Linked DNA regions of Homo sapiens: region 1 is linked to region 2. A link means that fine-mapping ties the variant in region 2 to the expression of a gene that starts in the linked region. Tissue or cell type: whole blood. Region 2 holds a variant in brackets; the other region holds the start of a gene. All regions are shown on one strand. Distances are between the middles of the regions.

What was found. PIP is the estimated chance that this variant, and not a neighbour inherited with it, causes the effect.
Region 1: CSF2RB starts here. The variant in region 2 is fine-mapped to the expression of CSF2RB in whole blood (INTERVAL, PIP above 0.99).

Annotation. Positions count from the first base shown.
Region 1 is chr22:36,911,038-36,916,037 of GRCh38, reverse strand. CSF2RB (colony stimulating factor 2 receptor subunit beta) reads right to left here and starts at 2,410. Exons shown (of 14, transcript NM_000395.3): 1 at 2,361-2,410. RefSeq lists an enhancer at 3,876-4,577.
Region 2 is chr22:36,952,186-36,957,445 of GRCh38, reverse strand. LOC124900478 (a long non-coding RNA gene) reads left to right here and starts at 2,786. Exons shown (of 3, transcript XR_007068091.1): 1 at 2,786-3,798. It also overlaps the pseudogene CSF2RBP1. The variant GA/A (reference allele first, on the strand shown) is at 2,510.

The DNA of each region.
Region 1 (5,000 bases), 41 kb after region 2:
GAGAATATATTTTCAACATATATAAATGGATTATTAATACACGTAATAAATGAGTCACTCCAAAAGTTAAGATGTAAAAGAGAATTCAACAGGAGATGAACAAAAATTTCTCCACATTCATCATAAATGAAATCCAAAAGGCCAATCCACATATAGAAAATGTACAACTTCACCCATAATCAGGGAAAGAAAAAAATCACGCGACATTGAGAATTTCCATACATAATATTGGACAAAATTAGAAGATTGATAATTTCTCTAAAGGTAAATTGGACCCTTTATGCACTACCTTGGGGACGTCAGCTTAGCTCAGCTACTTTGAGGCTGATTTGACAATACCTATTATAATTTCTAACGCACAACCTCTGCACAGCAATTCTGCATTTAGTAATTTAGGCTACAGAAACACTTTCACAGATGTGGAAAAATTAGAAACAATCTAGGTGTCGATCAACGTGAGATTAGATGAATTGTGGTGTACCCATCCTAATAAATGCCACATATTTCTTAGGGTTACTTAACGAGTTAAATCTGTATGTATTATTGTAGAAATTTGGAAATATTCCAAAATACAATATTAAGTGAAAAAATTAGGAATATATATATATATATATAAATAAAATAATCCCATTTCTGTAAAAAGAAAAACTACCATCCTGGCACAGTGGCTCAAGCCTGTAATCCCAGCATTTTGGGAGGCTGAGACAGGCGGATCATCTGAGGTCAGGAGTTCGAGACCAGCCTGGCCAATATGGTGAAACCCTGTCTCTACTAAAAATACAAAAATTAGCCACGTGTGGTGGCTCATGCCTGTAATCCCGGCTACTCAGGAGGCTGAGGCAGGAGAATCACCTGAACCCGGGAGGCAGAGGTTGCAGTGAGCCAAGATTGCACCACTGCATTCCAGCCTGGGCGACAAGAGTAAAACTCTGTCACAAAAACAAAACAAAACAAAACAAAAAACAAACAGGAAAAGAAAAACTATATGCTTGTATCATGCTTAGAAAATGTTCTGGAAGAATACATGTGGTGAAAAGAATAAGCTATGGAACTAGGGAAAAGAAATTGCTGGGGACTTTGTCTCTTGTGCTACATAATTCTAGATTATTCTAATTTTCATGAAGGTAGGTTTCTGTGTAGTTGCTTGTTTAGCATTAAATACATTCCTTATACAACTCATGAATTATCCTGTGGTGTTGGTATATCTGTATACTGGAACAATATAAATAAAACTGCTGGATGAAAAAAAGAGTGACCAAAAGCTAATAGGAAATGTTTACTCATTATAAAATGATTACAAAGCAGGAAAGATGATAGAAAAAAATTAGAATTGGGCTGTACAAAAATATAACAGCAGGGTTTTTGAAGACTAAAAATTGCACATATGCAGCTTGTCGCTAGCACCTGTCTGACAAGGTCCCAGTGAAACACCTGCCCTTTCATTCTCAGGGCCAGTACACACACCTGCACACACCCTGAAGCAGGCACCCCAGATACCCACCCACCCAGCCAGCATACTTGGGTACAGAACACACACACCTGGGCCCCAACCCAAATCAGCAACCCAAATCAGCAGGGCAGAGTGTCATAACTAAAAAGACAGACAGACAGAGAGAGAGACTGAGAGAGAGAGAGAGAGAGAGAGAGATTGCTGGATAGTGCCTGGTATGTCTCTGGGCAAAGTGCTGGGCTCTTTCTCAAGTTCAAAGTGAGCTTCTCAAGCCACACCGCACCCAGCTCTGGGCCTCAGCGCAGCAAGCTTCCAGGTTTCACCCTCTGCCTCTTAGTCTCTCTGCACTCCTGCATCCCCAGACATCCGCACATGCACATACACACACAGGCACACACACAAATGCACACACGGGCAAACACACGAGCATGCGTTCTCTCTCTTTCTAAACCAAGATGTCAGGGACTATCCATGCTCCCCATTCCACAGATGAGGAGACAGAAGCCCAGGGTGGACAGGGGGTGCTCTCACTACCACCAGCATCTTAGTGACAAAGCGAAGACAGACTATAGGTGCCTGACTCCCAGGCCTGAGCTCTCTTCACCCCACTAGGCGTCCTTCCCACCAGGACCAACCAGATCCCGCTAGCGAGGCTGAGTCCTCCCCAGAGCTCTCCTACAACACCCAAGCAGCTTGGCACCCCTGGCTGCCTCCCCATCCACTGGCCGCCCTAGGAGTCTGGGCTCAGGTCATCCTAAGAGGCCAAGCCCTAACTCCTCCAAGTCCCCAGGGCACAGCTACCCACAGGACGCCCCCCAGGCTCCCCCTGTCCTTTTTCATCCTGGACTCCCCACATTCCCCCCTGCTCTGACCCCACCCCTCAGCCCTGCTCCTGGACGCCGGGCCATACCTCTGTGTGGTGGGAGAGACCAGTCTTCTTCTGGAGCCTCTAGGCAGAGTGAGCCTCCCACGTTTCCTATTTATGTTGATGTCATCAGGAAACAGAGAAGCAGAAAGAGGAAGCAGTGCCGGCCCAGGCCTACTTTGCTAATAGTGCACGTGACTTTTCTTACTTCCAGAAAGCCTCCTACTCCAATTTACCTTCCTATAAACTCCTAGGCCTCCTTCAAGCCTCAGCTGACGCAGGGCCTCCTCCATGCAGCCTTCCCTGACTGCTTGATGGGGATGCAGGTGGAAGTGGCTGCAATAACCATAGCTGGTTTGAGCCCAGAGCCAGACAGATCTGTGTTGGACTTCCAAGTCCACTGCTTCTTAAAGCGTGTCCTTGTGCAAATCATCTGCGTGTTACTTCCCCAAGCCTCGGGACATCCATCTGTCTGTTACTTTTGCAGAAGCATCTACAAACCTGGAAGGACTGTTGAGGGAATCCAGTGAGATTCTGTGCAGGAAGACCTTAGCTCAGAGCTGGCCACAGGAGAACCCCCTACAAGTGGTAGCTGGTGGCATGTTGATTTCCCCGATGTCCTCTTTGCCCTGCCGCCCCACCCCACCATGTGTCATATGGTCATGTGTGTTCATGGCTGTCTTTCTTCTGACACTATCTTCAGTGCTGGCTTGTGTCCGGCTTGCACTTCCCTCCCAAATACCTAGCACATGGCCTGGTACAGAGGAGAAATTGCACCTTTGACTGTGTGCAAATGAATAGATGAATGAATGAATGAATGAATGAATGAATGAATGAATGAGTGGCTCCCTGAGCACAGCAGGGCCAGCAGAATTAAGGTCAGGTGAGTGAGGCAGTCTCTCGTGCTCAAAATTTAAACAGGCATTTAAAAATTCAGTAATTGTTGTAAGTAATATTTTAATGCAATATGGTTTAAAAAAATCCCAACTGATGCAGAAACTATTCACGGTGAACCAAATATGAAAAGTTTGAATAAAGACAAGATGAATCACAGTGCCAAGACACAACAAAACGCAGTCATATTTCTCCTACATGGGGCTGCCTCCCAGGAGAAAGGGCAGCAGGCAGGAATGAGGGGAATGGAGGGCAAGAATGAGGGGAATGGAGGAAATGGAGGGGCAGGAACCTGCCTCGAAGCCACTGGAATTCTGGCCTGATTGTTGTTCTTTGCTTTCCTCCTACCAGGAAGGGCAGGGTTGGCCAGGAAGAGCTGGCAGGGCCTCACCCTAGCAGAGAAAGCCCAGGGTAGAGGAAGGCATGTGTGGTTCTCTCAGGCACTCCGGTCAGTGTGAGGTCCCTGCCTGGCATGGAAAAACCCTGCAGGGGCTTCTCCAGGGCTGGAGAGGATGGAATTAAAGTGACGTCCCGGGCTCTCTTTTCTCCCAGGTGTCCCCACTCTGCCTGTCTTTGCTGAGGTCCTCTGTGGGACTGGGAGGCTGCGGGCCTGGATGCCCTCAGGAGCACAGAGGATGCTGTCTGGTGGAGAAACGAAGAACCCGAGACTCTGAGTCAAAATCACTCCGGACACCAGACCCAAAATGTGAAGGAGCTTTAGGAACACCTCAGCCAATTCACTTGACTGACCCTTTCCTTTTAAAAGTCATCATAGAGCAGCAGGGGATAAAAATCTACATTTGAATGAGTCTAACAGAGTTCTCTCAATAAGTATTAAAAGTTCTAAGCGAGAAGAATCACACCGTCAGGAATTCATTGAATGTTTTCGTTTGTTTGTTTGTTTTTTCCTTCAGTGGTATGTAAAATACCGTGTCTTGCAATTGACGATCTTTTAGAGACTAAGAAACCCAAGAAAATGTTGGCAAGAACGTAGTACTCATAATGACCAGGGCTTGAGCATTTACGCTGTGAGCAGACCTTCGGCTGGGGGCTTCTCCATCTCTTCCCAATAACCTTTATGTAGCTGTTACTGTCTTCACCTTACAGATGAAGAAATTGAGGCATGAAAAGGAAGATAACTTGTTGAAAGTAGTAACTCGTATATGTTAACATTGCATTTTTTTCCATTTCCATTTTTATTCTGAAACTATTTCAAAATACAGAGCGTTAAAGGAATGATACAAAGAACTCTCACATACCCTTCATGTGGAAACCCCCTTTGAGTTTCGCTAAGCTTCTCAATAATGGTTTTGTAACAAGAAAATCCATCCGGGACTTTGCATTCTCTCTAAATGCATGGCTCTTAGTTGCCATGTCTTTCGGGCCTCCAGTTTGAAACAGATGCCTTGTTTTTTCCTCGACATCTCGAAGACTGCAGGTTGGTTGTTTTGAATAATGTCCCTCGATTTGGCTCTGTCTGATGATTAGAACTGGGTTATGCTTTTTTGGCCAAAATAGCACAGAAGTGATGCTGGATTATTCTTGGTGAGTCCTATTAGCTTTCATTGTCAATCTGTCCCATCACTAATGTCGTTCGCTCTGATCATTTGATTAACTTGACACCAATCAAGTTTCTCTATTGTAAAGTTACTTCCCCTTCCACATCGTAATTTATAAGCATTTGGTAGGGAGATACTTTTAAGCTTTCTCATCCCACTCCCACACTTGTATAATTTCAGTATGCAATGATGTTCCTTAATTTAATTAAACATTATCATGATGATCATTGCC
Region 2 (5,260 bases):
AGCCTGGCCAACATGGTGAAACCCCGTCTCTACTGAAAATAGAAATATTAGCCAGGTGTGGTGGTGTGCGCCTGTAATCCCAGCTACTTGGGAGGCTGAGGCAGGAGAATAGCTTGAACCAGGGAGGTGGATGTTGCAGTGAGCTGAGATCGTGCCACTGCACTCCAACCTGGCAACAGAGCGAGACTCCGTCTCAAAAATAATAATAAAAACATAAAAAAAAACTAAAATAAATGTGTGTGGCAGCTGCCTCTGCACTAGTGCTCTCTCTCTCTCTCTCTCTCTCTCTCTCTCACTTGTACCAGCTTTCACTGTGTGACGTGCCTTCTCTCTTCACCTTCTGCCATGATTGTAAGCTTCCTGAGGCCTCCCCAAGAAACGAAGCAGATGCCGGTGCCATGCTTCCTGTACAGCCTGCAGAGCTGTAAGCTAATTAAACCTCTTTTCTTTATAAATTACCCAGTCTAAGGCATTCATTGATTTACAGCAATATGAGAATGACCTAATATGGAAAATATCCTACTCTCAGTGCCAATTTTCTGTATTAGGTCATTTTCATGCTGTCATAAAGAAACACCCAGGACCAGGTAATTTATAAAGAAAAGAGGTTTAATTGGCTCACAGTTCTGCAGGCTGTACAGGAAGCATGGTGCTGGCATCTGCTCAGCTTTTGGGGAGGCCTCAGGAAGCTTCCAATTGTGGCAGAAGGTGAAGGGAGAGCAGGCACGTCACAATGAAAGCAGGAACGAGAGAAAGAGAGAGAGAGATCAGCGTAGGGGTAGGTACCACACACTTTTAAATGACCAGATCTCCTGTGAACTCAGAGTGAGAGCTCACTCATCCCCAAGGGGATGGCCCAAGCCATTCACGAGGGATCCCCCAACCATGATCCAAACACCTCCACCAGGCCCCACCCCCAACATCGGGGATTACATTTCAACATGAGATTTGGATGGGGACAAAAATCCAAACCATATCAATCAGTTTGATCTTTTAAGGTTTGTTTTTAAGCTTCCTTAGAGGACTTTTATTATTATTATTATTATTATTATTATTATTATTATTATTGAGATGGAGTCTTACTTTGTTGCCCAGGCTGGAGCGCAGTGGTGCAATCTCTGCTTACTGCAATCTCCGCCTCCTGGATTCATGCAATTCTCCTGCCTCAGTCTCCCAAATAGCTGGGATTAGAGGCACCTGCCACCACGCCTAGCTAATTTTTGTATTTTTAGTAGAGATGGGGTTTCACCACGTTGGCCAGGCTGGTCTCGAACTCCTGACCTCAAGTGATCCACCCGCCTTGACCTCTCAAAGTGCTGGGATTACAGGCATGAGCCACCATGCTGGCCTAGAGCAGTTTTAGAATGGCCCTCTCCTGGGCTGGTTTAGTGCTGGCACTAAGGTGTTTTTCTTCTTGGTTCTCTACTGAATGTGTGAGGTGTTCAGTAAGAATTCCTATTCTGGCTTGTTGGAACTTGAACATCTCCCAGACCTTGGTGAGTTCTGGAAATTGTTCAGATACATCTCTCTGTGTACTATTTACACAGTCTAGTGGAGCTCCACCCCACACATGCATGGTTTAGTGTGCAGCAGTACATGCAAGAGGATCTCTGTGTAGATTTGCTGGGTCTCTTTCTCTGTGCAGCTCTTTCTTCTCTTGTTTTCTACACCAAATTCCAGCTTCTTTTGCCTCTTCAGACTCAGACCCCTATCGCCCAACACAGCAAGACTGCCATGGTCATGTTGGAGTTCTTTTACCTACGTCACAGTCAAGAAAGTGGTAGAAAGGTAGAAAAAGGTAGGCACGGTGGTTTATGCTTGTAATTCCAGCACTTTGGGAGGCCGAGGTGGGAGGATCACCTGAGGTCAGGAGTTCATGACTAGCCTGACCAACATGAAGAAACCCCCGTCTCAACTAAAAATACAAAATTAGTTGGGTGTGGTGGCGAGTGCCTGTAATTCCAGTTACTCGGGAAGCTGAGGCTGGAGAATCACTTGAACCCGGGAGGCGGAGGTTGCGGTGAGCCGAGATCACGCCGCTGCACTCCAGCCTGGACAACAAGAGCGAAACTCCCTCTCAGAAAAAAAAAAAAAAAAAGAAAAAGAAAAGAAAGGTAGGATGATCATAGGACCTACCGTGTTTGTTTTCACTCTCTGAGCGATCATATAGAAGGACTCCTCTTTTCTAACAGCTGAAAACAGATTTTTAATATCGTTTGTCCAGTTTTATACTTCTAAAGTAGAAGGCTATACCTGGTCCTAGTTACTCCATTATGGCCAGAAGCAGAAGCCTCTTCTCCCTCTGCCCATGCCTGTCTTTTGCCCCTCCTCCTCCACTTGGAGCCATTTGGCCCATTTGGGTGTTGACTTTGATGCAAGTCAGGGGTGCCTGCATTGGCGTCTGTGCATGTGGTTGTGGGTGTGTGTGTTTGTATAGTGCCTGGGTATACGTGAGTCCTTAAGGTGGAAGTGGGGCATGGGAATGGGGTGCAGGGGAAGTGGGCTGTGG[GA/A]ATGGGGTCCAGTGGAAGTGGGGTGTAGGAATGGGGTGCAGGGGAAGTGGGGGATGGGAATGGGGTGCAGGGGAAGTGGGGCATGGGAATGGGGTGCAGGGGAAGTAGAGGTGTGACGGAAGTGGAGAGGTGTGAAATAGCTTCTTGGGAAGGGCAGAGTTCCTCCTTGCTGCTGGGAAGTGTCATTTGGGGTTCTGGCAGCGTTAAGAGCCTCCCCACAACCCCCGCCTCCGATGGTAATCCTGAATTTAAGTGAGACCAGCTGGTGTGGTTTTGTTCAGCTGAGCATGGCCAGGGCAGGAAGACTGAGAGTTCACCATTTTCTGTACCGAGAAGCCCTGCTGCCTCCTCAGGAACTCCATTCCTATCCTGTCCTCCTTCCTGGCTCGTTCCCAGCATCCTCAAGGTCTTGTCAGCGCCCTCGTAGGGTGGTCAGGTCCCATCAGGGTTGTCTGAGCATGTGTGTGCAGGTATGTGTAGGTGTGTATGTGGGTGTGTGAGTGGGTGGAGGCTTGCGTGTTTCATGGTTTCAGAAGTGTTGAGAAAGAAGAAAAGAAGACCTCTGTCTTTTCTTCTGACATCACAAAGGGCAAGAAACTAAGAAATGCCTCAGGCTCCTGCAGAGAAGAAGGGATGGGCAGTAACAGCTTGGGGCAGGTGAGGAAGGATGGTGGAGTGTTTGGTGTTGAGTGAGGTGGCCCAAAGGGAGTCTGTGCATCCTCAAGACCTGGGAGGAGACAGGCTCCATCTGTGGTGGGTGGATCCACAAAGCTTATCTGCCAAAATCACTTGAAGAGCTTAACGCAGCCCACTTGGGCATCAACCCAGTAGCACCCAATACAAACACACAGAATCTACACCAGCACTGCGGGGAAGGGTGAGAGTGGCAGAGGAGGAGATCCACACTAGGTGGAGAAGGCGCAGGACCAGGCTCCCCGTACCCCCAACATGGCCTTCTCCCTCCTCATCGGCCATATCCCTGGGAAGACGAGAGGGGTGGATGGGCCTTATCCTGGCCCACATCTCCTTTCTCAAGACCTGGGGTAGGATGGCAATTCATGGATGGAGGAATAACAAGACCTGGTGAGATCAGCTTGGCCTGGCTCCCAGCTGGGCAGGAACACAGGACTCCAGGGCATGGAAGACCCCACCCCAGCCCATGGCCAGCATCCACCTGTGCCAGCACCTGCCTGTCCAGAGCTGACCAGGAAAATGGTGCTGGCCTGGGAGCTGCTCCTCATGGCCCTGCTGGCCCTGTGCTGGGGACTTAGCCTGGCAGGGGCAGAAGGTGAGTTCCGTGGCTCCCACCCCTTCCCTGCCCCCTCCTCACTGCTGCACCCTGGAGGAGGCCCGCACCATACCCCCAGGACCCTGCCCACCCACCCTCCTCCTGCTCCCCTTGCTTCGTCTCTTCCCCGGCCTTCCCTGGGCTTCCTTCACTTCCCTCCTCCTGCACATTCCTGCTCATCCTGTCCTGGAAAGTCCAGCTGAGTGTGTCTGGGTTCCCAGCCCATATTTCTCAGCACGGCACTCCAGGCCCCCAGGCTCCAGGGTGGCTGCTCTGACCGTTTCCCTTCTCCTCCTTCCCCAGCAGACACTCGCTGCACCTCAGTGGTTCCACCTCCAGACCTTTGCTCCAGCAGCGTCCTGGCTTGGGGTTCATCTCAAGGCTGGGTTGATGCCTGGGGGTCTGGGGGGCAGGGCCTGTCGCTGCTGCGTGTCTCCATTCTGCAGGGATTGCACGGTGCTTCTGTCAGGAGAGGAGGGTCCACAGGCAGAAGCTCACCCTGGCAGACCCCCTTCCCAACCCAGGGCACCTCTGCCCCAGATCAGCTGGGGGTGGTGGTGATAAGGGACCCTGCAGGGGAGAGAGGTGACCCCTTCCTGCCCCTCTTGTCAGAAACCGTCCTGCTGCAGACCCTGCGCTGCTACAGTGACTATACCAGCCACATCACCTGCGGGTGGGCAGACACCCAGGATGCCCAGCGGCTCGTCAACGTGACCCTCATTCGCCGGGTGAATGAGTCTGTGACGTTGGGTGCAGGGGCCACGGGTAGGGGCTACGGTGTCCCCTCTGCCTGGCGTGGGATGGTGGTGTAGAGAGGGATGTGTCAGGTCAGCCTCGGGGTGGGAGTAGACAGAGGACAGAGGAGGACGGAGGCCCTCCCGGGAGCTCCTGCTCAGCCAGGCACCTGCCAGGCACTACTGTCTGATCTGGGGTTTCTGGGGAGCACGTTCTACACTGATGTCGTTGAGGATGGTGCTGGTAACAATGGTGACAATCTTCTCTTATTTTGTCACAATTTAACACAGTTGCCCCACATGACCTATCTTAGTTCCTCCTCACTGCGAGGTGGGCAGGGCCAGGCCACGACGCCCAGTTCACAGATGGGGAAACTGAGGCCCTGGAGGTGAGGCGCCAGCCCTGGCCACAGATGGGGAGTGGCAGAACAGGCCGTGTGGACGTGTTTGGGAGGGGGCTCCATGCTCTCCCAGGCTCCTCCTCTGCATGTGGGCTGCCACCTCTCCCACCCGAGCTCTCCTGGGCACGAACCACACAGGAAGGGGACCGGCATTGCTCTGCGGTGTTGGCCAGGGTCTGAATCAGCCTTAAATGAAATAATTAAGCCACTGGAACCAGAGAGGCAGGTGACAACTGATTGGAGGTCTCCCCACCTAGAGGGGGAGGGGGCCCCAGCTCTGCCACCCCCCACCCCTCCACCACCTTCAGTTCTCCTGGGGAGCTCCAT